6 separate regions of the Homo sapiens genome follow, and regions 2, 3, 4, 5 and 6 are each reported to be linked to region 1. The links are microRNA targets in miRTarBase. Many come from high-throughput screens and were not tested one by one. Region 1 holds a microRNA gene; each other region holds the end of a gene's coding sequence. Distances are from middle to middle.
What was found. Region 1 holds the annotated microRNA hsa-miR-615-3p (UCCGAGCCUGGGUCUCCCUCUU, at 1,982-2,003, opposite strand). A microRNA usually pairs through its seed, bases 2 to 8, with sites in the 3' UTR of a target mRNA and lowers its output. Matches are read on the target gene's strand: a 7mer-m8 pairs with bases 2 to 8, a 7mer-A1 pairs with bases 2 to 7 and ends in A, and an 8mer does both.

Region 2: the mRNA of ILF2 is a reported target of hsa-miR-615-3p. The part of its 3' UTR that is shown has no 7-base or 8-base seed match.
Region 3: miRTarBase lists KPNA6 as a target of hsa-miR-615-3p. The part of its 3' UTR that is shown has no 7-base or 8-base seed match.
Region 4: miRTarBase lists KLHL8 as a target of hsa-miR-615-3p. The part of its 3' UTR that is shown has no 7-base or 8-base seed match.
Region 5: the mRNA of PDCD7 is a reported target of hsa-miR-615-3p. The part of its 3' UTR that is shown has no 7-base or 8-base seed match.
Region 6: the mRNA of DENR is a reported target of hsa-miR-615-3p. The part of its 3' UTR that is shown has no 7-base or 8-base seed match.

What each region holds. Positions count from the first base shown.
Region 1 is chr12:54,030,669-54,036,012 of GRCh38, reverse strand. It overlaps MIR615 (microRNA 615), which reads right to left and starts at 2,063; the gene lies at 1,968-2,063. HOXC5 (homeobox C5) reads right to left here and starts at 2,963. Exons shown (of 2, transcript NM_018953.4): 1 at 2,437-2,963; 2 at 652-1,735. The coding sequence starts at 2,890. The coding sequence ends at 1,521. HOXC6 (homeobox C6) reads right to left here. Exons shown (of 2, transcript NM_004503.4): 2 at 5,190-5,344. It also overlaps a transcript of HOXC4 not described here. RefSeq lists a silencer at 1,865-1,924 and enhancers at 2,008-3,159, 3,154-3,448.
Region 2 is chr1:153,658,663-153,664,006 of GRCh38, forward strand. ILF2 (interleukin enhancer binding factor 2) reads right to left here. Exons shown (of 14, transcript NM_004515.4): 11 at 4,553-4,614; 12 at 4,357-4,471; 13 at 4,043-4,133; 14 at 3,126-3,894. The coding sequence ends at 3,734. SNAPIN (SNAP associated protein) reads left to right here and starts at 41. Exons shown (of 4, transcript NM_012437.6): 1 at 41-224; 2 at 476-522; 3 at 786-904; 4 at 2,538-3,190. The coding sequence starts at 82. The coding sequence ends at 2,639.
Region 3 is chr1:32,169,349-32,174,692 of GRCh38, forward strand. KPNA6 (karyopherin subunit alpha 6) reads left to right here. Exons shown (of 14, transcript NM_012316.5): 13 at 534-712; 14 at 1,359-5,344. The coding sequence ends at 1,546. Among named protein-coding and RNA genes, the nearest start is that of TXLNA, 7.7 kb to the right of the region's middle.
Region 4 is chr4:87,158,537-87,163,880 of GRCh38, forward strand. It overlaps KLHL8 (kelch like family member 8), which reads right to left. Exons shown (of 10, transcript NM_020803.5): 9 at 5,342-5,344; 10 at 1,567-5,106. The coding sequence ends at 4,983. Among named protein-coding and RNA genes, the nearest start is that of KLHL8, 59 kb to the right of the region's middle.
Region 5 is chr15:65,115,079-65,119,078 of GRCh38, reverse strand. It overlaps PDCD7 (programmed cell death 7), which reads left to right. Exons shown (of 5, transcript NM_005707.2): 5 at 239-1,700. The coding sequence ends at 362. UBAP1L (ubiquitin associated protein 1 like) reads left to right here and starts at 3,879. Exons shown (of 6, transcript NM_001163692.2): 1 at 3,879-3,929.
Region 6 is chr12:122,768,558-122,772,557 of GRCh38, forward strand. It overlaps DENR (density regulated re-initiation and release factor), which reads left to right. Exons shown (of 8, transcript NM_003677.5): 7 at 225-364; 8 at 477-2,507. The coding sequence ends at 521. Among named protein-coding and RNA genes, the nearest start is that of CCDC62, 4.0 kb to the right of the region's middle.

The DNA.
Region 1 (5,344 bases):
TCCTGCATAGCCCGAGGCCCTAGAAGGTGGTGGAAACAGTCTGAACATTTCCTGCCAGGCTGATACACACTGCAGATTGTCCTCCCTGCTCCCTCTTCCCCAGTATCTTAGATACTGAGGCACACCTCCTCCAACTCTCCCAACACCCCCTTACCAAGCAATACCACCTCCCTCTAGAGGCCCTTATGAGACCAAATGGGTCCCTAGAGTGAGGGCTCAGCCCTCCCTCTATGTCCAGCAAGGCCTCTCAGGGACCACCTAGGCCCAGGAAAGATCTTCAGAGGCCCAGAAGGTCCTAAGGCTGAGCACGGTGGAGCCACTGGTTCCTGCACCGCAGCTTTGGCACACAGTGGGGGCTGCTGCCAGTCCAGAGGCCTCCTGGAGTGCAGAGGCGTGAAGGCCTTGGACAGCCACAGCATGGGAAAAGCCAGTACTCGAGGCCTAGGTGCCCTTCTCTTCCCCCAGAGGCTCTTGTTGCAGCCAAGGAACAGGAAAGGAGCTCAATTTCACCTCCCTCTACTCACTGCCCCTAGAAGCTAGAAAATTTTTTAAAGGGGTGGCTTAAAGTTTGTGGGTCTCCTTCTACATCTCACAGCCCATTTAGACAATTTTACCCAATACATGCCCCAAACAGACAGGAGCCACTGCATCTTTAGTCCTGTTCTCTCTTTATTTGATATGACAAAATATAGTTTCAGGAAGGACCCAGAGTCAATAAATAGTTGGACAACAGCAATGGGTCAGGAGGGCACAGAAATTCGTGGCAGGGACTATGGGACAGCAAAGGGCCTCTAGGACCACTTGCTGGGGTCCAGTGCCAGGAAACCCCACTAGTTGAGCTAGCTAGCAGGCTGGGGCTGCCGGCCTGAGAGGGCATGCAGCAGGCGCAGGCTGGGGAGGTTCCCGGGTTTTGGGGGGAAGAGGTTGTGGAGATAAGGTTTGGAAAGCATAGAGCAACTGTGGGGGCCCTAGGCCGATGCTCTCCTTTCATATGCAAATCATTCATAAGTGAAAATCTAGTTTAGTCGCTACAAGGAAGCACCCCGAGTCTAGGGCCAGACTCTCGCCAGCCTTTGGCTGTCTAACCCGTCCAGCCGGGAACAAAGGAGAGGGCGAGGTTAGAGGGTCCGGCGAGGGTCCTGTGGCGCGGGCCGGGCCCACCTTAACTCGGGAGGGCCGCGCTGAGGCTGGGAGCCGGAGATACGGCCCAGGCCAAGGTTCGTTCTGCGCCAGCCTGTACGCCGCAGCCCTCCGGGGAAGTCCTGCGGAGCTTGCCCTGGGCCCCGGGTACCGAGCTGAGCCGAGCTGAGGGGAGATGGGGCAGCGCCGACAGCCCCGCGGGAACCCTGGGTCGGTAGGGATGCGGAATGCCAAGGAAAAGCGCTTTTGTCTGTGGGGCCCGGGAGCCCAGTGCTCCAGCACCTGCCCCCGACCCGAAATATAGAGAGGAAAGGCGAAAAGGAAAGGCGCAGGGACAGGAACCGGCTAGGGGCGCGCTCTGCGGGCCTCCCCCGCTGCCTCTAAAGAGCCTCTTTGCTTTTCATTTTGGAATCTTTCTTCCACTTCATCCTGCGGTTCTGGAACCAGATCTTGATCTGTCTCTCATTGAGACACAAGTTGTTGGCGATCTCTATGCGCCTGCGGCGAGTGAGGTAGCGGTTAAAGTGGAATTCTTTCTCGAGTTCCAGAGTCTGGTAGCGCGTGTAACTGGTTCGGGACCGCTTGCCGTCCGTCTCTGGAACATAAACCCCACCCCAAGCCAGGAAGGGGTGAATAGCTTGCAGCGTTCCCCCGTCCCCACCCCAGCCCAGGCCCCCACCCGCGGCCGGAGGGAGAGGAGGCGAGAGCCGCAAGACAGGCCACGCGGGCCGCAGGCGGGCCAGCCCAGCCCAGCCCCGGGAGAGGCGCCTCCGCCCAGGCAGGAAACTTTCCACCGCAGCCTTCACTCTGCAGCCGGAGGGGCTGAGGGGGGGTTGGGGGGAAGAGGGAGACCCAGGCTCGGACCGAACAATAAGCACCCTCGAGATCCGAGCACCGGGGACCCCCCTCCCGCCCCTCCCGAGTCGCTGGAATCCTCCGGAGCCGCAAGCGCCGGCGGAGCCGGCTCCGCAGGGGAGGGAGGGAGGGAGCCGCGGGGGGATCCCCGCTCTGGAGCCCCGCGCTCCTCACCCTTCAGATCCCTCTATTTTTTTAACTCCCTCCCTCTCCCCCAAAAATTGAATATTGCCTTTTATACACGTTTTGTTCCTATGATCCAATTATGTCGTCGTAAATTTGGGCGCACACAGCCTCTAAGCCTTTTAGTGGACAGTTTTACGAGCCATTGATGCCTGGATCGTAAAATTTATGGCCGCAGGTTTTTTTTCTTTATTTGCCCCGCATGGCCTATAAAACCCAGGCGGACCCGAGAGCGCAAAATGAAGTCCTAAAGTTTACCGTGGCTCATGTGCAGTTTGGTCATCCACGGGTAAATCTGTGGCGGGGCCGGTGGCTGGCTCAGTCCGGCGGGCTGCCCTGTCTGCGCCTGCTCCTCTTTGATCTCCCCACTGCTCTTAGCTCGCTCCTCCAGCGCCGGGCGAGCCGCCTTCTGACTGTACATCCCGGGGTTCAGAGGAGCCGCTTCGTCTCTGCCCGGAGCGTGTCCCGGAGCGGCCGCGGCGCTGCAGGCGGGGCGGTCGGGGTGAGCCCGGGGGTTGGCAGCCATGTCTACCCCGTGGAGAGAGTTGGAAGGCGCAGGCGGTGGGAAAGTGATGCTTAAGTCCAATCCGCCGTAGCAGTACCTGGATGCCTGCACCTCTGAGGCCGATCCATAGTTCCCACAAGTTTGCATGTTATAGGCAGGGATATTGGGGCTCTGCTTATAGAATGAATTGGCTACGTAGGAGCTCATGGCGGGGAGGGCCCAAAAAAATTTCTGCACCCTTTTTGATTAAGGGTGATTTGTGACTCTTTGAAGTTGAGGGGTTTTTTGTTCTCCAAAGTGGACAATTTATAGGTGGAGATATCTCTTTCTTTATCCTATGCGCTCTTCCCAAATAAGGGAGCCTTAAATAGAGTCACGTGACTCGAGCGGCCACTCATAAATTTGGCTTGATGACCTCCGGGAGGTTAGTGATGGAAGCCGGCGAAAAGCATCTCGATATGTTGGCAAAGCCCAACCAAGGGGGAGAGGGAGTGAGAGAGAGAAAGAGGGAAGGGGGAGGGAAAAAAAAAAAAAGGTTCTTGGAATTGGGGGTAGCCGGGACAACAAGCCCACAGCGACACCTGGTGCCTATGTGGGGGAATTGCATCCTGGAGCGCCAGCTTGCTTTCCGGTGGCTGGATTTCCTACACTGTGAAGGAGAAGCTGGTTGTTGGGGCAACCCCTGAGCTAGCCTTTTAAATTCTATTTAAAATTGGGAAAAGACGAGGCCCCACTTATAACGCACAGAGTGCTTTTTGTAATGAAAGTCCCGTTCTCCCAACCTCCAGGGTCTTCCAATCTTCAAAAATGGCTGAGGAAAGGGGATTAAGTTAGGTAAGGTGGCCTATGCCCAGGCTGGAGAACCAATGGGGTTTAACTTAGGTTCCCTAAACCAAAGGTAGAAGTCCCTTGCCTCTCAGGCCCTAAGGCTCCACTACTGCTGAAGAGGTGCCTATCAGCAAGAGAAAGTAGAATTAGCTTCTGAAGAGGTAGACAGGACGCCCAGGAGGAGGGATCCTGAGTGGTCAGAACAAGATAGGGGGGTCATGAAGCTGAGGGTGTTGCAGGCTGTTTGGGATGGATCTGGAGGTGAGGAGCCAGGTGGAGTTGGCTAGACCTCACCATGCTAGGGTCCCCAGAGTGGCAACAAGGCAATTTTCAAGTGTGTGTGTGGACACGGACAGAGCCAGACAATGGTCTAGAGGACTGCTCTGTTTCCCTGTGTGCGATCCTTATGTGGTACCTATGCCAGAGGTTTTAGACAGAAAATAGATGTTAATTGAGGACATGGAGAAGCAAGATTGAAGCCTCCACAAATATTACGTGAGCATGGCAGAGGAAAAGGCCCGTTATGTGCCCTTTGGGGAAAAGGTCTCTGGGCTAGGCTTTCCAGGGACCTGAATCCATAAGGTTCACAAGAGAGCAATTTCTGAGCTACCAAGAGGAATGGGGCGGACCTGGGGGGTGGGCAGGGCAGGCGCCTGGGTAGCCTTCGCAGGGTATCTGCAGCCATTCGGCCCCATCCTCTTCCCCCGTAGCCCCAAGTCTCATACTTCCCTGCCTGCTTCTTCCCAGGAAATCTCCGCCCCGCCAGGAGAAGGCCCCCTCCTCACTGGTGGAGGCACTGGAGGCGAGGGTGGGGGCGCTGGAGGGAATCTGAAGGGCCCGGAAAACTCTGGCGGATTTTTTCCCTCCGGAGACCCTCCTCAACACCTCTCCCTGTAGGCCCACTCAGGTTTCTCTGGCCAGGCTTGGAGAGAGAAGGCCAGGGTTGATAAATGGTTAGGGTCCGGCTGCGCTCCTCACCCGCCTCTTCACCCGTTTGAGGAGAGAAAAGTAAGGAACCAGCCCGGCTGGAGCTGTAATGAAGAAGGAATTTTGTCCCGGCCACGTCAGGAGTACCAGAGCAGGCGAGAGCTCAGTTTCCAGGCTTTCTCTCTCGAGATGTCCTTGAATCGCTCAATCCCTGCCGACAGGGCTCCAGTCCCGCGGTCTTCTCTTTCCCTCCGCTCTCCGCCTCCGCTACGTTTCGCAACAGCCAGCTTGGCGCGGGCCTGGGGCTTGCTCTCACGGCGCCCCCCGCCTCCAACTCCCGGGAGTGGGTGGAGGAGACCCTGGTGCCTGGATAGTGCTTCTTTACTGGTCTTTCGGGGCGCCTCAGGGTTCGGACGCCGAGGACACCGGCTGCCACAGGCAGGAAGAAAGGCCTGCGTGGGGTTGGTGCCCAAACCGACTGATCCCAGCTCCCCCCGCAACAAAATCCTACGCGGCTTTTTCCCGCAGGGTGTGTGTGTTGCTCCGCGCAGGGAGCCCAGAGAGGCCTCCCAGCCCCTCAGTGCGATCGCGAGAACGAACAGAAGGCCGGGGCCGGGCGCCTGGGCTCCGGGGAAGGCGAGTGCAGAGGGCTGGGGGCTTGCAGGGGGCCGGCAGGCGCGGGAGCGCTTGGAGCCTGCTCCAGCTCTCACCCTGAGGCCGGCGGGCGAGCGAATTAACAGAATTCCCGGTATAAAGTTTTAAAAATAATATCAGTTTTATTAAATATTCGAGAACGGACCCAGAGGTTGGATTTATACAGGAGGGTAACACGAAGGGATTTATTTATTTATTTATTTTCTCCTACTGGCTAAACAAACGTCATTCACTTTTTTTCTCTCTTTTTGT
Region 2 (5,344 bases), not on the chromosome of region 1:
CCTCACGGGGCGGGGCAGTGCGGCGCGGCTCCGGTTCCCGGCGGCCCTCGCGGCAGGTTTCGGGCTTCAGGACAATTCGTGATGGCGGGGGCTGGTTCCGCCGCTGTATCGGGGGCAGGGACCCCGGTGGCGGGGCCCACAGGCCGCGACCTTTTCGCCGAAGGGCTGCTGGAGTTCCTGCGACCCGCTGTGCAGCAGCTCGACTCTCACGTACACGCCGTCAGGTGCCCGGGAGGGAAGTTGGGGGCGGGGCCTGTCTCTCTGGCTTTGTAGGGGCGGGGCCAAGAAAGTGTTCTGGCTGGGAGTGGGCATAAATTTAGGAAACTGATTCGAGGCGGGGAGGACAGGCGGGAAGGCCGCAGGTGGAGGGTTCAGCGGAGGCCGGCTTCTCTCAGTACTTGGTAAATACGTAGGGGAGTTCGTTTCCTGAGCTCCGGTAACTGCCTGACCTTGTAGGCCTTGTACCTCTTTGCAGAGAGAGCCAGGTAGAGCTCCGGGAACAAATTGACAACCTAGCCACAGGTGAGTGAGCATCCCTGTGTACCCGGAATTCTTCAGCCCACTTTCAGGACCTTAGGTTTTTGCCAACCCCTGGGCTGAGTTTCTGTCACTTGCTTCCAGGGCATCAGGGCTGCCAAAGGACTCCTCCTTTCAGGGATGTCTTAAATCTCTAATGGCTGTGGCCCGTTTGGGTGCAAGTGTTTTCCATCCCATTACCAGCCTGCTTTCCCTCAGAACAAGAGATAAGCCGTTAGATCTTAGCTGCACCTTACTTCCATCCCCAGAACTGTGCCGCATAAATGAGGATCAGAAGGTGGCCCTGGATCTTGACCCCTATGTTAAGAAGCTACTTAATGCCCGGCGACGCGTTGTCTTGGTTAACAACATTCTACAGAATGCTCAGGTAAAAGAATATCTTACCAACAGTGATTCTTTGCCCTTTTTTGTAAGTCCTCAACACAGTGAAAGCCACTGTAATTTTAAAATTCTTTGGGGAAAGGGAAATTCACTTCTCCCAGTACTTGAAAAATACCTAGGAAAATTCGTCTCATTCTCACTATTCAGTTGCTGCCATTTACATTCTTGTGTGTGTGTGTGTGACAGTCTCCCTCTGTCACCCAGGCTGGAGTGCGGTGGCTCAATCTCAGCTCGCTGCAACCTCCGCCCCCTGGGCTCAAGCAATTCTGCCTCCGCCTCCCGAGTAACTAGGACTACAAGCGTGCACAACGCCCAGCTAATTTTTGTATTTTTTTGTAGAAGTAGGGTTTCTCCATGTTGCCCAGGCTGGTCTGGAACTCCTGGGCTCAAGTGAGCTTCCCACCTTGGCCACCCGAAGTGCTGAGACTACAGGAGTGAACCACCACACCTGGCTATTTATTTTTATGATACAAGGTCTATCACCCAGGATGGAGTGCAGTGGCATGATAAAGGCTCACTGCAGCCTCTACCTCCCAGGCTCAAGCGATCCATCCACCTCAGCCTCCCAAGTAGCTGGGACTACAGGCATGCACCACCATGTCCAGCTAATTTTTGTATTTTTTCTAGAGACAGGGTTTCACCATGTTACCCAGGCTGGTCCCAAACTCCTGCATGCGAGTGATCCACCTGCCTGGGCCTCCCAAAACGCTGGGATTACAGGCGTGAGCCACTGCACCCGGCCTGCCTGGCCTTTTTTTTTTTTTTTTTAAATAAAAAGACAGGATCGGCTGGGCGCGGTGGCTCTTGCCTGTAATCCCAGCAGTTTGGGAGGCCGAGGTGGACAGGTCACCTGAGGTTGGGAGTTGGAGACCAGCCTGACCAACATAGAGAAACCCCGTCTCTACTAAAAATACAAAATTAGCTGGGCGTGGTAGCGCATGCCTGTAATCCCAGCTACTTGGGAGGCTGAGACAGAAGAATCACTTGAGCCCGGGGGACGGAGGTTGCGGTGAGCTGAGATCGCACCATTGCACTTCAGCCTGGGCAACAAGAGCGAAACTCCGTCTCGGGAAAAAAAAAAAAAAAAAAAAAAGACAGGCTATCACTATGGTGCCCAGGCTGTTCTCAAACTGGGCTCAAGTGATCTTCCTGCCACTTCCTCCTAAATGGTGCTGGGATAGGCATGAGCACCATGCCTGGCCTACATTTTTTTTTTTTTTTGAGATGGAGTTCTCCCTCTGTCACCCAGGCTAGAGTGCAGTGGCACGATCTCATTTCATTGCAACCTCCACCTCCCGGTTTCAAGCGATTCTCCTGCCTCAGATTACAAGCACCCGCCACCATGCCCAGCTAATTTTTTTGTATTTTTTAGTAGAGACGGGTTTTACCATGTTGGTCAGGCTGGTCTTGAACTCCTGACCTCAGGTAATCCACCCGCCTCAGCCTCCCAAAGTGCTGGGATTACAAGTGTGAGCCACCATGCCCGGCCTACATTCTTATATATACTTTTGAAGACTGACTTTGAGGTAGATCACGCCCGGTATTTTTCAGCACCTAGTTCACTTACACTCTCAAGCCTTTCACAGTGGTTAAGATTCCAAACCTTCCTTGTCTTGTAGGAACGACTGAGACGGCTAAACCACAGTGTTGCCAAGGAAACAGCCCGCAGGAGAGCAATGCTGGATTCGGGAATTTACCCCCCTGGCTCCCCAGGCAAATAACAGATGAGCCTATGGACTCAGTAGCACAAGTACTGTTCCCCAGCTGCCTTGTTTCAACAGACATGCAAAGATCCTAGGAGACAGTCCCCATAGACCTTCAGACATTAAAAAGGGAGCCGTACAGTTTGTTTGAAGCACTTCGTCTTACCCATTTATGTAGGGGCCCCAGGAAACCTACACACAGCCAGAATGAGGTTCCCAAAGGACTTACATTAATTATGGCTCTTGCTTCCTTTCACAAATGAGCTGAGGCCTCTACTTTTTTTTTTAAGCTGCATACGTGAGGCTTACCTTCTTCAGGACTAGTTAACCAGAGGGGCTTCCTTTGTATGTTACATGCCTGGTTACATGGGCCTGGACAGCATGTCCTCTACCTGTGACTTCTCATTTTCCTGTTTACACTGGGGATTTGGAGGGGGCAGGCAAAGTCAAAGTGAATGACCTCTGTCCACCCACTTTTTTATTGCACTGGCTTGAATACAGTAGCAGTGTTGATAGAATCATTTTATTCAATAAATACTTAAAATGATATTCTAGTTTACTCTGGTATATGGAAAGGTTCCAGGAGTTTGTCCTTTAATTCAAAGACAGCTTCAAATTGTGATCTGAGTATTTATAATTAAATGACTCAATTATCATTTTCAACAAAAGAGTACACAAAGCCAAAAGCAAAAAAGGTTGCCACATGCAAAAAAACAAACAAACAAAAAACACCAACCAGAAAGACCAAGAGCCCTACTAGGAAGTACTTTAATAGTTTTTCTTAGAAAAAAAAATTTCCAGACACTTAACATTTCACAACATTTCAACAGCAAAGTATTAGTTGAGAGAGGGGTTTTCAGGAGTTGGAGATTATAGAATATTAGGAAGAAATGTTGGTATCCTCCATTATAGATGGATGGCATAGGTCACAAATGGGAGACTGGCAGCTAAGCCAATATCAAAACCCAGTGGAATGACACTTCTATGGAGTTTACTTTTCTTCCTGCTATCTTCCCTATCCCACGGAAATGTCTGTCACCATGTAAAGCCCAGTAGCAGGCAGCTTAGGCTCCAGTCTTCCCCCTTGGGTAGGAAAAGGAGTGAAGGGAATGTCACTCCTGAGTTTCCATGCTTTCTTCTTCCTCTCCTTGAGGTGGTTCTTCTGTATTCTCCTCTTCTTCCTCTCCTTCCTTCTTCTCTGGTGGCTTCTCATAAGCCTTTTCTGAAGGTGTTACTATCACTCCATCCCAGGTAGATATTTCAGAAGCAAGATCTAGGAAAGAGAAAAAGGTGATTTAGACGAGTAGCCCAGCATAAAAGTCATTACTTACACTGTGGAAATATTAAAGACATTTAAGTAGTGTACAGCTTCTCTGTACCAGATTACAATACAAAACCCCTGACCCACAGTGGTCACTCACAGCTGGCATCACCCTCCTGGCCAAGGATCTTCCTAAAGCCACCATGTGAGAGGATTCGGACGAGAGTCTGAGCTGTATAGCAGACCATGTCCTGAAGGAAAGCAAAGTGAGAGTAAGCAAGGAAAATCAAAGGACCTTATTTGAGTAATACCCTTCTGAAAACAGAGATTAAGACAGCTTTTTAAATCTCAGGACCAAAGTCTTTCAGAATCCCCAAATTCCTGACCCGTAAAGACCATATTCCGCTTTGCCTGCTGAGCAGCAGTATTCAAAAGAGTGGGGCAAAACAACTCAGTTCATATCTGTCCCAATACCTGCTGTTCTAGGGTCATGACTGTGTGTACTCTAAAGTTGCCACTCTCACAGGGGTCAGTGATACCCACTGAACCTGGCAGGAACAGTCCTGCAGCCAGAATCTGCAAGCAGCGCCTAGAACACAGGGAGGTATGAGGTATTAAAGGAATGCACAAAATAGTTTACAACCAACCCTAAACCCAAAGCATGCTGTACCTGTATGCAACGTTTAGGGCCAAAGGCTGTCTGGTGGGGTTGTTCATCACAGCATAATGGCCCTGAAAAATAATAAATCCAGTAGGTGTGCCATCAAAATGGCACTTCTGATAACTAGAACTTTATTTTTTAGAGACAGGGCCTCACTTTGTCATCCAGGCTGGAGTGCAGTGGCGCAATCATAGTTCACTGTAACCGCGAACTCCTGGGCTCAAGCAACCCTCCTGACTCAGCCTCCTGAGAAGCTAGGACTATAAGTTCAAGCCACTACAACTGGCTAATTTTTTTTTTTTTCTCTTGTAGAGACAGAGTCTCGCTATTTTGCCCAGGCTGGTCTCAAACTCCTGGCTTCAAGTGATCCTCTGGCCTCAGCCTCCCAAAGTGCTGGGATTACAGGCATCAAACTAAAACCTTAAATGATCACGAGGAAAACTGGTCATTAAGGTCTAAGTCTAGCCAAAATTTTCATGTTCAGAAGCAATTCTGAAATGGCTGCTCACTCATTTCTCTCTACTACCATGATTAAATGGTAGCAGTCATGAGAAGAAAACGGGACACTATAACTCAGTAACTACTCATTTCATTGAATATACAAAAAAAAAAAAAAACTTTGAATTTTTTCTTTTTTTTTAAACAAATGTCTCTGAGTCATGTAAATGTTGAATTTTTATTGGATTACTTGTCTACCAATAAAATTTCTTTTAAGCTTCACCAAATTTCAGACTCTGGTGAATTTCAGAGTTACTACTACTACTACTACTACTACTACTACTACTACTACTAGTAAATAAG
Region 3 (5,344 bases), not on the chromosome of region 1:
AGCAAGACCCTGTCTCAAAAAAAAAAAAAGGACTTGGTTGGGGAACACTCTCATTCTCTGGCATGGAATGGGGTGTTGCACAATTCTTTTTTCTTTTCTTTTCTTTTTTTTTTTTTGAGACGGAGTCTCACTCTGTCGCCCAGGCTGGAGTGCAGTGGCGTAATCTCGGCTCACTGCAAGCTCTGCCTCCTAGGTTCACACCATTCTCCTGCCTCAGCCTCCCGAGTAGCTGGGACTACAGGTGCCCGCCACCACACCTGGCCAATTTTTTTTTTTTTTTTGTATTTTTTTTTAGTAGAGACGGGGTTTCACCATGTTAGCCAGGATGGTCGCGATCTCTTGACATTGTGATCCGCCCACCTCAGCCTCCCAAAGTGCTGGGATCACAGGTGTGAACCACCGCGCTCGGCCTCACAATTCTTAAAAATAAAAAAATAAATTAGTAAGAGTGGGTTGCTGAGAGTTCAGAGCACCTGCCCAGCACTTCATGTGTCCTGTACTAGTTTAGCACTTGCCTGGTCTCTGGCCCCTAGGTACCTGGTCTCACTGGGCTGCATCAAACCCCTATGTGACTTGCTGACTGTAATGGATTCGAAGATTGTGCAAGTGGCCCTCAATGGACTGGAGAACATCCTGCGGCTTGGAGAGCAAGAGGGCAAGCGCAGTGGCTCAGGGGTCAATCCTTATTGTGGCCTCATAGAGGAAGCCTATGGTATGTGCCCTCTCCTCAATCTAGGTCAGAACCTGAGACTGTAGGCCTCCAACGTGGTATACATATGTTGGTGGTGGCGGAGTGTGGGTTGGGAAGCATCCATAGCTTCCATGAGACTGATGTCTGTGTCTTCAGAACAGTTAAGAGCTCCTGCCCTAGCCAAGTTTCACCATCCACAGGGTTTCACACGTTACCATGAGTATAATCAGGATGTGCTGAGTAGCTGGGGTACAGCTAGGATTTGGATTTGGCTCATCTTTTGAGTTGAGAGTTGTCTCTCACCAGTTTCTTCTCCTTCTAAGGAGTGATAGGTCAGTTCTCTTTCTGATAGGCTGTACCTATAAGAGTGCTGGATTAACTCATCACTCATCCCTGAGAGGCTGATGATGTGCCCAGGTCATGCTTCTAGTTTAAAGCAGAATCAGGACTAGAACCTCTGTAACTGACATTTTGGTCTCTTTCCTTTGGGATTCTGTAGTTTTGAGAAGAAATCTTAACTCTCCCCTTTCAGGTCCAAGAGTGATCTGATCATATGACTTGTGTTTGTAAGCACTAACATACCTCAGGGAAGGAAAAATAGGTAAATGTTTCACCTGCCCATAGAAAAGCACTCACACTTCCCTCTCCTTCCTTCTTACTACTGTAGGCTTGGATAAAATTGAGTTTCTCCAGAGCCACGAGAACCAGGAGATCTACCAGAAGGCCTTCGACCTCATTGAGCACTACTTTGGTGTAGAAGACGATGATAGCAGCCTGGCTCCCCAAGTCGATGAAACGCAACAGCAGTTCATCTTCCAGCAGCCTGAGGCCCCCATGGAGGGCTTCCAGCTATAATATCTGCCTCCAGGGAGGGGAGGGGATGGGAAGCACCACCAGCCAGCGGAAGAGCAGCCCTCTGGTGGGCGGGAAACCAGTGTCCCCACCATCAGCCACCACACACCTCTGCTGCCCTGGAGACTGTGCTCTTGACCTGCTCCGCCCCCTTCCCTGGAGGGAGCACCCTCTGGACAGACAGAACCATCTGAGGCTCACCTTTGGGTTTTGTGACAAGAAGGGGACGTGTTGGGTTTTTCTTCCTTACACTATATTTTGGCTGCACACATGTCTTTAACCCAGGAGCCCAGGGGTAGACAAAGGAGGACTAAGGTAATCAATTTGCACCTTTTTTTATTTTTATTTTTTTTCTTTTTTTCTTCAGTGGTGACTTCCTTCCCTTTATCTTTTTTCATTCTTCCCGGTCCTCTGCCCTGATCTGTGTAACTCTTATCTTGGGTACTTGAGCAGACGGTATATTCCAGAGGTGGGAGGTGGGAGGGGAAGGGAGAAATCCAAAACAAAGTGTTCTTGCTCTGACAGAATATTAATCTTGTACGCTTGGATTGAGTTATTTAATTTTTTTTTCTTTTGCACATTTTTCTTGTATTAAGATTGCTCTTCCCAAGAGCCACAAGTTCCTGGTTTTAGTAAACCCAGCTGCCTGCATTGCCTGGGACTAGAGGCTGGGGAGGCTACCATGAAACAAAGGTCCCTCCCTCCCTCTGACTCTTTGCCCAGACCTCTTTAGTTTGGGGGATCCTCCTCACTCTCCTGAAGTGTCTCAAGTATACCAGTGGGAGTGCAGGGGAGGAGCACAGGCCTTCAGATGGGGCTTCCCACGTGTAGCTACTGATCCCATATTTCCTACTCACCTTCCAAATGGTGCGACCCAACTTCATTTGTTTACTTGAAAATTCCCCCTCGAGGTTGAGAGAACCTCTGAGGTGGCTGTATTTTCTCCTAAGCTTGAGATAGGGGGCTGTGGTCCTTCCTTTCTCCTGAGGAGAAAGTCCTTGCTCTGGTGACCTGTAAGTTGCAGAGGAGGGTGGAGTGAGAGTGTCATGTATTGGGATAGTCAGGGATCCCTGCCTTTGGCCTTTCTTCTTCTTCTTCTTCCTCTTCCATAGTTGGATCATGTATATTTTACTTCTAAAGGAGAGAATGTCAAAAAGTTCTGTATTTTTTTATATTCTATATATTAGGTAGGTCAATCTTAATTGGTCTCAAGAGGAAGAACTGTCTGTCATTTCGGTAAGTAGGATACTGTGAGGAAGACCAAAAAGAGATATGGATGCTTCCTCGCTCAGGAGGCCTGAGCTTGGTCCTTTTCCTCTCTGCTTGGATTCTGGACCACCACCTGGGACCAACCTTCAGCTCTGGAACCTTCATAAAGCAGGTCAGCGTGGCCTGATTGTCCCAGGACCTGAAGGGAGCAAGGATGGCCTCAGGGCCTGGTGAAGTCTGCTACTCTGTCCTTACTGCTGAACATCCTGCTTGTATCAGGAAACTCAGAAGCAGTTTGCCTTGTCAAATTCAATCTCAATGGCCATTGTCCACATAACTGATCACCCATGGCTGCCTCTCCTATTATCTATTATCACTGAAACTTAGTAGCCTGCTTTTTTTTTTTTTTTTTTTAGAGCTATTGCGTATCTTCCCTGTTTGGGATCCTTGTACCTGGTTTGGGTTTTCCCTTCCTTGTGACAATTATAATCCAGATGCCTCTTCTTTCTGTTTGAATTACGGTAGTGCATTGCCTTAGTGGCTTGCCTGTGCCTCTGGGTGGATTACATATGATAGTAAAGCCCACCTGTTTGGATGGGAGTAGAGGAAGTTGGTGTAGACCAGCTGTGGAGCTGAAGGCACAGTCTGCCCCACCCCCACCTCCCCACTGTGGTTAGTCAGAGGCATCCTGCTCCAAGCTCTGCTTTTCCTTCCTCTGAAACAATGCCATTCTTGCTTCTATTGCTACACATCTCCTTCTGGCTCAGGTGAAATCCATGCCCTTCTGCTTATAGACCTAAAGTTCAGGTACTTATTATTGGCCATTGATCTTGAATTTGCCCTCTCCTAGTGCTGCAGTCCCACTTCAAAGCCATTTTCTGAGGAGGATGGTTTAGGTCTGGCAATTGTCCTTGAAAAATCCCACCCATGTTGTACCACCTTGGTGAGTCATATGCCACTCATCAGCTTGGGAATGATGGCTGCCAACTCCCAATCTCCCAGGAAGGCAGGGGGCAGAATCTTTTTTTCACTTGGCCTGCTACCTCCATTAAAAAACCATTCTCTTACAGTTTAAAAAAAAAAAAAAAAAAAAAGCCTTCCCCTACCCAACCTCCGCCCATTGTTCTCTTCCAAAGGGCAATTTAGTAGGATCTACTTTGTACATCTCAAGTAAGAGTTAAGTCCCTGATACAGGGACCAGTTTCTTAGTGTAAGACATACACATCCTGCTTGTCCAGCTGTTCCTCCAAAATCTACTTTGGCTTCAGCTCCGGGTCCTGTACCAGATGGAAAATGTTTTTGGTGATCTGGCTGCTGCTTAAAGCCAGTTTTCCCTAAGAACTCCAAAGGCTAAAGTCTACTAGGGGCAGAGTGTGAGGATAGATTTCTAATCAGAGAAAAGTGGCCTCCAGGAGCTTTCATTTATGTCTTCTCCAGACCAGGTTTTCCTGTTATCTTCCTTTAATCCCCTTTCAACCAACAGGTGAAGTTCTTCCAGCCCACAGAGGTAGTAATATCATCTTTTCTATCTCCTCCTCTCCTTTGGCCATGTAATGAAGCAAAATATTATTTATTTAGCCCAGGCTTGAGAGCCACTGTTTGTGGACAGTCTTCATCTAGATTCCATACCCTGGCCTAGGCGAGGTAAGGCTCTCTGGTTATTGCCAGGATGGAGCCCCTCTACCCCAGTCTGCTGTAGGGAATACCCTAATTAGTTGAGGCATGCTTTTGGAATCCTGGCATGTTGGCATATGGCTGGTCTATCCTTTTTAAGATCTCTGGTTGGGGGTATCTGGATATGGATTAGGAGGGACAAGGAGCCTTTTTCTTGGCTAATGTTTTCCAATACTTTTTTGAATGGTGCCAGCCCCTCCAGGCATCCCACCCCCAAATCATCATCTTTAGTACTAACAGGGTGTCTGGTCTTAGAAGCCTCCCTTCAGATCCCAGCTGACCCTGGTGACTGCCTGGCCTTGATGTTGGCTGCAGCCTTCTGATAGAACCACATGGATTCCACCCACAGCTGGCCAGGCTTGTTACATGGGTCAGGGAATACAAATGGCCCCCCCCCAGGGAGCAGGTGTTGGCCTCAGTTTTCAGGGACCCTTGGTGTTGCTCCTTACCTAGAGCCCATTAATCTACCCCATCAACTCTCTGCCATGAAAGCCATCTTCCAGGAGCCCTGTTTTTTGGAGCTGAACTGCACAGATTATAGCTGCTATTGTACTTAAATAAGGGAGAGGAAAAGAAGGTTCTCAGGCACAGACTTTCTATTTTTCTCAAGCCAAACCAGTTTAAAATGTCTAGCAGAATGAACTGTATTTCCATTTCTTCATGTCTACCTGCCTTCCCCCCACACCCTAAAGTTGTACTTGTTTCTAGCAAACTAGAAGGAAAAGATAGGAAAGCCTGGCACTACTAACCTCACCTCTCATACACCTCTTTGAAGGCCCCAGCTCTTTTGTTCAGGCCTCTCTTCTCCCCTAGACTCACTCAGCTTGGTATCCATCATCTTGAGCATTCTTCAGTAGATTCATCTAGGGTTCAGATTCCAGACTCTCAGCTGAAGACAGGGAGCCAATTTCCCCCAGG
Region 4 (5,344 bases), not on the chromosome of region 1:
CGAGATGGGCGGATCATTTGAGGTTAGGAGTTCAAGACTAGCCTGGCCAACATGGTGAAACCCCATCTCTACTAAAAATACAAAAATTAGCCAGGTGTGGTGGCATACACCTGTAATCCCAGCAACTCAGGAGGCTGAGGCAAGAAAATCACTTGAACCCAGGAGGCGGAGGTTGCAGTGAGCCAAGATCACACCATTGCACTCCAGCCTGGGCGATAGAGTGAGACTCTGTCTCAAAAAATAAAATAAAATAAAATAAAATAAAAAGAGACTGAGGCAGAAGAATCACTTGAACCCAGGAGGAGGAGGTTGCAGTGAGCCGAGATCATGCTGCTGCCCTCCAGCCTGGGCAACAGAGTGAGACTCTATCTCAAAAAACAACAACAACAACAACAACAACAACAACAAAAGAGAAATGTAGTGACCAGAAATACTTTCATACTGCTAAGAAGAGACTACAAAAAAAGGAAATGATCTTTTCTTAATGTATGCATACTGTATTACCTAGTGAATGCAGAAGTATGTATAACTGATATAGGTGGAGCAGTTGAGTTTTTTAGTCACAAAGAATATTAGTCAATCACTAACTTAGTTGTGATCTTCAACTAGTTATTTAATGTCTTTGAATCTATTTTCTTTTTAACTTTTGAACCTTTTTTTTAACGGTGAAGTATCAAATTACTGTAAAGATGAGAAATGTTATTAAGTGACTGGTACAGGCGATACATTTTTTTAAATGATAGCTAATACTCCCCATAACTATTACTCATATCTAAGAAACCCCTTATATTCTACTGAACTTAGCCTCAAACCACTAAGATAATGGAAGAGTGACTTGTTAAAAACAACAAAAAACGCACCAGAATTTCTGCATTCAAATAAGGTTGCCTCTCAAAGAGACTATACACTTCTTTCACTGACCTTGCCATTGCTCAGGATTTTAGAAATATTTCATTCAAACTGTTTAGTGTTGAAAACATTTTTACCAGTAGATGAAAAACCTCACTTCTTTGAAAGTAGATTTTACCTATGAAAATAGACATGAAATATTTTCAATCATGTTTGATGAATAATCAAGTTAAGATTTTGGTCAAGATTAACATATGACTATGATGAGACTAATTCTTTTGAGTGACTTACAAATGATCTCTTCAGGCTATTTTCAAAGATGAGTTTCAAAAGAAGTTTTAGCAATGGCAACCTTAATTTTTTTAAAAAGCTACAACTTTGCAAGGTTTCTACTTGGAAGGACAACAGTCATCCTAATGCATAGTCTCATTTCTATATAGTACAAGTCTGCAATTACTGAAGAGACAACTGCTTAAGATCAGTGAAACTACTTACATCAGTTACCTTCAACCTTTAATTTTCATAAGGGAAAACGAAAAGCTTTCTAAAATTTTCAGTTAAACATAAAGATCCTTCATATAAGGAGAAAAATATAGCCAACCTACTCAATTTTGTATTTGAGGAATGGAGAATAAACAATTACACAGTTTTGACAGGATCCCATAACAGCAATCAAATAATGATGAGAAGCAGTTACACAGACCTTTTAGAGAGAAGTTTGTGCTAATAGAAATATGCAATGTATTTTAATTAAATAAATAGCACTGATGTGACCCCAACTTTTTGATATCCATAGTTGGTGATATATATGACCACTTATTACATTGATTTTCTGGAGTATTATAACACAAATTTATAAATGGTTTTAAGAAAATATTATAGAGAAGTTTTACTGACACTTGGAATTTTACATGAAGGGGAAAGAGACATAGCCAATGGCATCCCAGTAATAATTTCTTTACACATCTGATACGAGAAACCACAGAAACATTCTTAACTGATACAACATGAATTAGATTCTAAAGGCATTCTTTAAGACATAGAGAAAAAAGAAACAAAGAAAATTCTCAAGTTTACCATTTACAAGAATAGTTTATGCAATTTCAAGAAGTCCTTACCAAGGCATTCAACAGCACTGTAAGTTCAAAGTTCATTTGGGAATTAAAAGAATGAATAAAATACTCCTTAGAGGGAGTACAAAGTTTATTCAAACATTTTAGAAATAATCAATTAATTACATAAGTATATAGTGAAATCTGTCAAAAACAATGTCAAGTAACTTGTTTTTAAAGTGGCAACGCAATATAGTAAAGCAATGGCTTTAATGACTAAATGAAAGAATCACAAAGCACCTAGAAATATTTATTGAAGAAATAATAAACAAATTTTCATGATTTATTTTGTCCATTTGCAATTTCAGTATTTTAGCTCTATCTCATATCATTTTTTGGTAGGTGCTGTTAACATATGAGGTTAAAGTGGTAAGTCTCACAATAAAGTAGCCATCTTCTTTGAATATTTCATCTCTTCATTTCTATGAATATAATCATCTTTCAGCTGCATGATTCCTTCAGCCTGATTCTCATTTCATGTCTCAATAAACGTGTTTTTGCCTGATAAAGAGAACTGTGCACATATTGATTCTGCTTTTTTATCTTTTTTTTTTTTTTTTTTTTGAGATGGAGTTTCACTCTTGTTTCACCGCTGGAGTGCGATGGCTCAACCTCGGCTCATTGCAACCTCCACCTCCTGGGTTCAAGCAATTCTCCTGCCTCAGCCTCCTGAGTAGCTGGAATTACAGGTATGCGCCACCACGCCTGGCTAATTTTTGTACTTTTAGTAGAGACAGGGTTTCACCATGTTGGTCAGGCTGGTCTTGAACACCTGATCTCAGGTGGTCCACCCACCTCGGCCTCCCAAAGTGCTGGGATCACAGGCGTGAGCCACCATGCCTGGCCTATTTATCTTTTCATACTGCTGTCAGGTCCTTCAAGGCTATGCTTCTGATTGCCCACACACTTTACTTCTGAGTATTTCATATTTTACGGGTAGGTAGGGTACCAACTTAGTATGTTAGATAACCATTGTATAGTAAAAACCAGAAATGAAAATATAATAACCCTTATAACTCCTTACATATAAGAAAGACAGAAATACATCAAAGAAAAAACATTTTAAATAATCTCAGGAAACAATAACAAGATCCTCTCCCCGAAAATAAATATAACAAACATATTAGTAACCATAGCTAAACAAACACTGTAATATAAGAACTCCATTAGACATAAGAAATAGACATTGAAGCCAGGTTTTGACACTTATTCTCCACATCCAGCCAGTTGTCACCAGTCTAGTAAGTGCTACAGGGTTAACTGCCTCTGGACTGACTGAAATATGGTTGTACTTACACAAAAGAACACTGGTTCAGATCCAGCAATGACTTATGAACTTGCCCATAGGTAGAAAAAAATAGCTTACTGGATTTATATCTGCTTCATAAGAGACTTTTATCTGCCAGCCTGACCCCTCTTAAAACTTTTTTTTTTCTTTTTTGGTTTGATATACTCAATAGGCACTGGCTTTTTTTTGTGATGTGGCTTTTTTTGTGATGTGGCTTTCCACACTATTGTAGAAGTCCAGAATCCCATTTAATAAGATGCATGAGCTATTAGTCAATGAACTTTAGGGCTGGATGGATCAACGAAGTGTTTTTCACTGCCCCAGCTTCCTTATGAACCAGATTACTGACCAGCGGTGAACTACAATAAATTCGAAGACACAACTAACAAAAACTTAGGAAGGCCTGGAAGAGAGGTGCCAAACTGCACTGCAAATACAAAATAAAATATTTTCATGTTCTTGATAAATATTTATAAAAAAATATACATATAATGAATAGGCCATTTTATAATGCTAGTTAAAACTTTGAAGAGCTGTTAAATCTGTAGGTCCATCAATATCCTGGCTTCAAATCAATATGTAGAAATATTTTTAATTAAATTTCAATAAATACACCAGAGGGATTTAAATATGATAAAAACAGTAATTTCAATCTCTGTTTTTACCAACAATATGTTTAATTAGTTCGTGATGGGCTTGAACTAATCAATAAACTACAGTCTACAAAAAGGTTTTTGTAAAAATGCATTCATTTCTGATAATAAATAAATGCAGATTGATTCTGTACAGTCAGAAAAACCAGGATGGTGGCAAATAGCAAAATAGAGAGATGATAAATCTTGGATCCAAAATCAAATGATCAAAGAAGACAGTTAAAGATATTTTCAGACTGCCCACATTAGAGTCATGTAATCTGCATCATTCTTTCTCAAGGTCTCTCAATTGGGCACCAGAATAACATCAGATCTAAAACCTTGTTCAATATTTCCTCTGGTTCACCTTTTGATTATGTAACAAATACTTTTTGCAAAAGATGAAAAAATAAAACTGTAAAATCATTTGGATGGAGTTAGCCCAGCTAGGTCTTTTGGTGTCCTAGCAATTCAAACTGAAATTAAAGGCTTCTTATAGCCTATAAGCTTCTGAAAATGCAGCTAAGTGGCATTCAAAAAGACAGAACATTTTTTCTACTTCCGTAAATATAAAAGAAATTGAAAAATCACCACCTAGAAAAAAAAAGCTAGGCATAAATTCATCAGCACCAAGTAGAAATGATCTTCAAAAGGGGCAAGTCTCTTATGTATCCTTGTGTTAATGAATAGGTACTAATCTCTCCTCTAGGAAAAACCCACTGCCTGACGTTAACATCTTTAGGCAAAAGAAAAGGCAAAACTCAACAAATTACATTTTGATTCATCCAAATAGAGAGAGAGAGAGAGATTTCAAGATTTTTGGCACTACTTTAAGCATTTTTCAGGGTAGGTATGATTTTAAGTTCGACTATCTTCTTCCCTACTCCATTATTTGCAAAAGCAGGAAGTATCAAATTTAACTCTATTACTAATAATTCTTCAGGTATCATTCCAAAAGTTGTACTTAGTCACAATACAACAGTTAACATTTAAATAAGACTCTAGTTGCAGTAAAAAGTGTTGAAAGGTGGTCATATCAAAATCTTGGTTTTCTTTTGTACCTATCAGATATGACTAAATTGTTGGTGGCCAGAACTCAAATCACATACAGTCAACCACATTATTGGATCCATGACCTACATCTCGAATTTGGCTAGTTAAACAGGAACACACAGCTACTCCTGCTCCAGCTCTGCAGTGAGACACAGATCCAACAAGCTCCCACCTGAAAAGACGGAGAAGAAAAAATGTTACAAAGCATAATTTACTTTACTCAAAATACTAACCAAAGACAAAAATTCCCTATGTGAGACTGGTTTTGTAGGACAGCAAGCTTCCAGTGGGAGATAAGATATCCCAAAGCTTAGTATTAACTACGACTAGCAACATTTTAACACTCTGAAGTAATCTACTATTATACCAGAAGATAATATAAAGCACGGAGACAACATGTAAATTACCTA
Region 5 (4,000 bases), not on the chromosome of region 1:
TGAGGATTGACTTTATTTGTTATTTGGTTATCCATAAGGTTTAAGTTCTTCAGAGTTTTTCCTCTTTTTATATGTACATTTAAGAAATATAGTCATTTTCTTGATTCCTAGAAATCAAGTTCTGTAATAGATTAGTATATCAGTCATTTGAAAGCTAAGTCTTAGAATATGTAGTTGCTGAACATCTTATTTGGAATAAAACAGAAATAAATAGTTGTTCTATAATGTTCTTATTAAGGCATGATTGGGATCAGTACCTGGTGCCATCCGATCATCCCAAAGGCAACTTCGTTCCCCAAGGATGGGTCCTTCCCCCGCTCCCCAGCAACGACATCTGGGCAACTGCTGTTAAGCTGCATTAGTAAAGATGCTCCAGGAGTGTGGTCCAGCCAGCGCTCTTTCCAGCTGTAAATATTAGCGATGGTGCCATCTTTTGCTGTAGACTAAACTGCAACTTCTAAATTCCATGTGGCATTCCCCTACCCTGAAGTTATGCTTTCCTTCTGTGCTCTGTGCTGGCCAGAGGTGCCTCTTGAATCAGATTAATGTGGTTTTTCAGGAAAGGACTTAGGTGAACTGAGGTTTTTACCACAGGCAGTGAATGACCTTGGTTCACCAAATTTGCCTCTGTTTTGAGGGGCTTGGTCCAGAGTGACTTGTTAATTTACTCTAACTTCCTTGTGTGTTGATGGGTAAGTACACTCAAACACTGAATACAGGTGTGTGATGGGTAGATTTCACAGCCCTTCTACTAATAGTGAGTGTGAAGGCAAGCTTGATGCAAAACCTCCTGACCTTTCCTACCTGAAGAGCCCTTTGACTTCTAGGAAGAAAGGTCAAAAATGTTATCTTCAGTTGTGTTAATCCCAGTTTTAGTGCAGCTTAGGAGGCTGCTAGTTAGGAAGATGGCAGTGGCTGTAGGCTGGGTTGCCAGAAAAGATGGTGGCCTAGTCTTATTATTCAGATGGAGAACTTAGAAAACCTGAAGAGTACCCAAATTGGATTGTATTTTAATGGACAATGGCTGTATTTTTTCCATGTTAGAAGGATCCTAATGAAAGCACCTGTTATTTTTAAGTTTCTAAGGGTCTAGTTGTTCAGAATCCCCAAGGATATTTCCCTAACCTCACTCAGTCACATTGTAGGAGCCAGTGTAGCTATGGAATTATCTTAGGAACTCAAGCTTCTAAAACTATCCATGTAGTCAAATCTAGGGGAAAAAGCAAATAAAAATAGTAAAATTTGGCCGGGCACAGTGGCTCACGCCTGTAATCCCAACACTTTGGGAGGCCGAGGCGGGCCGATCACGAGGTCAGGAGATCAAGGCCATCCTGGCTAACACGGTGAAACCCTGTCTCTACTAAAAATACAAAAAAATATTAGCTGGGCGTAGGTGGTGCACACCTGTAGTCCCAGCTACTGGGGAGGCTGAGGCAGGAGAATGGTGTAAAACCCAGGAGGCAGAGCTTGCAGTGAGCCGAGATCGCGCCACGGCACTCCAGCCTGGGAGACAGAGCAAGACTCCGTCTCAAAAAAAAAAAAAGTAAAATTTATTTTTTATATTCATTAATAAATGCTGTTGTGCTTGGAGATGATCACTCATATAACATGTCATTTTTTTGGTTCTGTTTTGGTTTGGTTTTTGCCAATTATTTTGTTATATTTCCAAAAAACTAAATAAAAATCATTTTTATTTTTTAGTTTGTGCCTTTGCTGCCAATTTGTTGCCTTCCAAATCACTTAACACACACTTTCACATTGATGAAACATATTTTCATTCAAAAATTCAAATTTATTAAGCAGGCATTTGTTACAGGAATTTGAATCTTAAATGCTAAACTTTATCTGCAAAATCCAAGTCTGGATTGGTAAGGATACCATCAATTTTGGAAATAATGTTACGTACTGTAGTTGGAAGCTTTTGGGTGCAAGATACTAATGGCTTTGTCCCTTTTCTGTTGTTTAATTTGCATTAATTTATACATTATATAGAGTCAACAGATAGGGAATGAGGGCCACATGTCTCCAAAATGTATGTCTACGCTTATAAATCTTAAAATCTGATATGATTACCCTCATAGAGCTCCACAATCCTGTGTGCCTTTTTGTTAGATATCTCCACCATTTGCTCTCTGATGAGATGCAGGAAGAGTAGAAATAAGGTGAATTGTACGATGTGTGTTTGGTGTCTGGACAGCCTTGCCACTAAGATATCTGCTGTGAGGGCAGGGAATGTGCTGCAGGGACTCAGGAAAACTCGGACAGCAGAACCCAAGAAGGTGGCATTTAGCCACAGATGGAGAAAAAAAAAATCCCTTTTTCCTTTGGCCCTTGCAAGGTTTTAATAAAGTGATCAGGCTGGGTGTGGTGGCTCACGCCTGTAATCCCAGCACTTTGGGAGACCAAGGTAGATGGATCACTTGAGGTCAGGAGTTCAAGACCTGCCTGGCCAACATGGTGAAACCCCATCTATACTAAAAATACAAAAATTAGTCAGGCATGGTGGCAGGCGCCTGTAATCCCAGCTACTTGGGAGGCTGAGGCAGGAGAATCACTTGAAGCCAGGAGGCGGAGGTTGCAGTGAGCTGAGATCACACCATTGCACTCCAGCCTGGGCAATAGAGCGAGACTCTGTCTCAAAACAAAGAAAATTAAAAAACAAAACAAAACATGAGCATTACTCTTGTTCGGTTTTTATTTGTAAGATTTTCCTGGTTTATTACCTGTGTGTAGTGGTGGTGGCAGTAGCCACTGGTTCTTTCAGGTTTAGAGAGACTCATGGTAGTATCTTTAATGAATTGTACTTTCAAGAATATGAGCAGTGTTATTGTAATGTTATCCCACAGTCTTTTTTTTTCTTTTTTTAACTTGGGGAAAATTTCAAATACATTCAAAAGTAAAGAGAATAGTACAATGATTTTTTTCCATGTACCCATCATCCAGCTTCAAATCATTATCAGCTTATGGCCAATCTTGTTTCATCTATACATCCTCCACTCACCCTGGATTATTTTGAAGCAAATCTCAGGCATCAAATTACTTCATCTGTAAATATTTCATTATGTAGCTTTAAGTGATTAAAAAAAAAATCTAACTACAGGGCCATTATCACATCTAAATAAAGGAGTAACAACTCCTGAATATCACAAATATCCAATCATTGTTCAAATTGCCCTCTCGTAAATGTTTTACGTTTTGTTCAAATTAGGATCTGAATAGACTCCATACACTGTTGTTTGCATCCTTGTGATGCCATGTCCCTCTGTTCTCGTATGTCCTATAATTTAGTAGTTAAACAGAGCTGTACTGTCCAATATAGTAGCCACATTCAGCTGTTGAGCACTTGAAATGTGATCTATTTGAGTTGAGATGTGCAATTACATATGTGGATCACGTTTCAATTGGATAGTGCTGATCTAGAGGCTTGATCACATTCAGATTGGAATTTTCTGGCAGGAATACTTCACAGACATAATGTGTACTTCCAGTCAGGAGGCACTGATGTCTTGGCTTTTTTTGTGATGTTAGCGGCCACTGATAAGACCCAGATTCATTCATTGATGGGGAGGGGACTCAAAAATAGTGATAGTTTAATTCTGTCATTCTTCAATTATTAACTGGAATACTTTTAAAAAGAAAAACTGTACAAAAGCATTTGTTTTTAATAAATTCGGTAAATACAGAGATTAGAAAGCTATGAGAGAAAGAGATTAGTTCTTAAATACTAAGGGTATTTAGCCCAAGTGGCTGAGTTTATGATGTCAAAGAATTTGCTGCTACAAGCCAACCAACTTAATCACTCTATAAAACCATTCATGCTCCTATGCCCATGTGACATTTGTAACAAGAAGCTTAGGCTTATGCCATCTGTTGTAGCTATTCATTTATACACGCTTTGTCTGCAGGGAAGTTCTCCTGGTAATTACAAGGTAAGTACAAAGTATATCTTATTCCATTTAAATAAGTATAATATGCAATATATGAAAGGAATGTGAACATT
Region 6 (4,000 bases), 69 Mb from region 1:
AGTATAGATGATTCTGTTTTTATGTATTGAGCCTTTATTTGACCTTGAAAGTGTAAATTGCATTGTTAAGATCTCTGTGGTAGTTTGTATTGTTCTGAAAGGAATATAAAACCCATTAACAATCTGTTTTATGATTTTAAAATGCAGATTAAATTTCAAAATGGAAAAACATCTTTGCACAATTCCAATTACAGTTCTTGCTCTTTCTTTTTTTAAAAAAATAGAAATTGATCTTAAAGAAGCACAAAGATTTTTTGCTCAAAAATTCTCCTGTGGTGCCTCAGTAACAGGGGAGGATGAAATTATCATTCAGGGAGATTTTACAGATGACATAATTGATGTCATTCAGGAAAAATGGCCAGAGGTGAGTGCATGGAACACATACATCGCTAGAGATAAGTTTTTAAAGCAAATTGCTTCCATTTTTTCTTAATTGCAACCACAACTCATGAGATATAATTATTTGTGTTTTATAGGTAGATGATGACAGCATCGAAGATCTTGGAGAAGTAAAGAAGTGAATTTGAAAATTTGTCTGTATTTAATGGCCTGAACTGAGAGTTGATATGGCCAAAGGGAGAGAGGCCTTTTAAAATATATATATATATACACATATATATGTATATATACACATATATGTATGTATACACATATACACATGTATATATACATGTGTGTATGTATACATGTATATATATATACATACACATATATGTATACATATATACACATATATGTATACATATATACACATATGTATACATATATATATATTCTACAGTAAAACTGTAGACTGTCCTCGTCCTTGGCATTTTCACTGTTCTGTACAAGGCTGCTTGTTTTTTTATTGCCAAAGTCAAATAAACGGGAGACTGTCATGCTCATGCATGAATAGAATTTAGTCAAATAAAAAATTTTGGTCATTTGGTACTGACTTTCTCTCTCTCTCTCTCTCTCTTTTTTTTTTTTGACAGAGTCTCGCACTGTTGCCTGGGCTGGAATGCAGTGGTGCGATCTCGGCTCACTGCAACCTCCGCCTCCCGGGTTCAAGTGATTCTCCTGCCTCAGCCTCCCAAGTAGGTGGGATTACAGGCGCCCGCCACCACGCCCAGCTAATTTTTGTATTTTTAGTAGAGATGGGGTTTCACTATGTTGGCCAGGCTGGTCTCGAACTCCTGACCTCGTGATTGGCCCACCTCAGCCTCCCAAAGTGCTGGTATTACAGATGTGAGCCACCGCACCCAGCCTGAGTTTCTCTTTCTCTCTTTTTAACTTTATTTTTTGAAAAACCCGGTAGACTTTTTGTGGGGAGCATTTTTGTTGATAATTTTACTGATCTAAAGCTGAGTGATTTTTTAAAAGAATTTGAATTTGGCTTCCTCACCAGTAATATGTCTCCTTGCTTCTTTGATGTGATAGTTTTGAGATGGGTGAGAATCTAATAGATCTGTGGTTGAATTTGCTGTGTTGTTATGAAGTCCACCCTGTGGGCACAATAACATAACTGTTGGTAGGAGTTGTTTGAGCTATTCTGGAGATTATTTGGTAAAGTATACTAAAAGCCTTAAAACCATGTATGTGCGCTGTTTGAACCCGTAAGCCACTTCTTTGACATTAGAAGACATTAGAAGAAATAATCAGCCTTGCATAAAACTTATGGATGAAAGTATTCATCACAATATTATTTATAATAAAAAATTGCAAATGTTATAAATGAACAATTGGGAAATGGTTAAAGAAGTGATGGTGCATTGTGTGGTAGAATATTATGCATATGTTTAAAGAATCATATTTTCTAAGATTATTTGGAAGCATGTTTGGTAATGTCAAGTGGAGTACCCCAGATACATTTTAGACATTTATCGTCATCATCTGCTCTGAGTGGAAGGCCGTTCAGAGAGGCTAGAGGTTCTTATTCTGGCTATAAATTATGTGAGTAAAATTGTGCTAACCAGTTAAAAGTACTGTACACCCATGCTCAATATATAGTCCTGGAAATAGCAATTGAAACATGTCTTCTCACAAGAGAAAATGACAGTTTTAATGATGTATTTGATGAATTTAAACTTTAAGTCAGGTGCTGCAAATTGGAAAGAAGACTTGTGGTGTTTTAAGTTGCTGTGGACACTTTTAAGAAACTTAGAACCCATGGAACCCTTGTTTATCGCCATGCAAATTACAATCTTGAATGAGTGTTTTTTAAAAATAAAGTATTAGAAAAATGTGTAGTAAAGATGTAAAATTAAAAAATGGAATTCTCCATTAACTGTGGATTTTACTAAATAGAATTACTGGTGAAGCAGATTTATCCATCGAGACTATCTGGTATGCGTTATGTATGTAGTCTGTTGCTGCTGAAAGATGTCTGTGTGCCTGTATCAACATGTGACTTCATGTAAAGTTTCTTTGTGTTCACAGTTCTTAGCAAATGCAGTTACAATCCATAGATAGCCAGCAGTGGATGTTACTCCAGGAAAATGCAGGATTAAAATTGTCCTTGTGTATAACGTGTGAATCATTTTTTTAAACTGAAATTTAAAATGCAACATAGTTTAATCTCTGATTAAAATGTACTAATAGGGCCAAGCTGCTTTGATGCATGGCTATAATCCCAGCCGAGGTGGGAGGATCACTTGAGTCCAGGTTCAAGACTAGCCTGGGCAACATGGCAAGACCCTGTCCCTATAAAAAATACAAAAATTAGCCAGGCATGGTGGCGTGCGCCTGCAGTCCCAGCTACTTGGGAGGCTGAGTTGGGAGGATCACTTGAGCCTGGGAGGTTGAGGCTGCAGTGAACTGAGATCACGACACTGCACTCCAGCCTGGGCAACAGTAAAACCTGGTCTCCAAAAAAAAAAAAAAAAAGTACTAGTAGTTCAAAAATTGACTTTACACATTCTCACAGTCTACCATTTTTAGTAAAAAACATGAACCTTTAAGCAGCCTTATAAGAGATTTTCCATGATTAAGCTGGCAACTTTTAATGCAAATACTTTTTGCATATAGTTTGGTAAGTATTTCATTTTTTAAAAACAGATGCTGACAGTAAGTGATTTTAAACTTTTTATTACTACATAAAAGCCAGTCTGTGGTAGCTTTCTCACTCTTAGTTTAAAAGTTGATAAATTACTGTTTTAAAGATGAATTTTACCTTTTAGTTCCCTGTTCTCATTATTTACTAAATTCCTTTACCTAGGAAATCAAATAGGGAGACTGGGAAAAGTTCATTCAGAACTTCAGTTTGGATTAGACTGTGTGAGTATAAAATCAGATGCAGTGTAATTCTTGTAGCTTTCACCTCTGTCATATTTTTAAAGTTATGTATTCTCTTTAATTTTTTTTGTTGTTGTTGTTTTAATGAAAACCTGTGGGGAGCGAAGGTAAAAACTTGAGATTTTTAATTTGTACCTTGCCATCATAATCCTCTTACTATACTCAGTTACTATTTATGAACCATAATCAAAATGAGCCTAATTTCTTACTATTCTAGATACACACAATTTTATTCATTTTTGAGACAGAGTCTCGCTCTGTTGCCCAGGCTGGAACGCAGTGGCATGATCACAGCTCACTGCAGCCTTGATCTCCCAGCCTCAAGTGATCCTCCCACTTCAGCTTCTGGAGTGGCTGAGACCACAGGCACATGCCACCATACCCAGCTAATTTTTAAATTTTTTATAGAGATGGGGGGTCTCCCTATGTTGTCCAGGCTGGTCTCAAACTCCTGAGCTCAAGCTATCCTCCCACCTCAGCCTCCCAAAGTGCTGGGATTACAGGTGTGAACCACCACACCCAGCCTGTACATGTATTTTTACTTGAGTGTCACACATGGTTGCCTGGTGAACAATGGCACTCGAGGACTTTCTAGAAAAATATCAAGTCTTAACAATGGTGAAACCTAAGAAACGTGAATTAAAACACTCCTCACTTCAAAAATTGACATTCAACCCACATTCCTTTACATCTCATCACCACCAACTTACTGCAGTCATCTACTGCT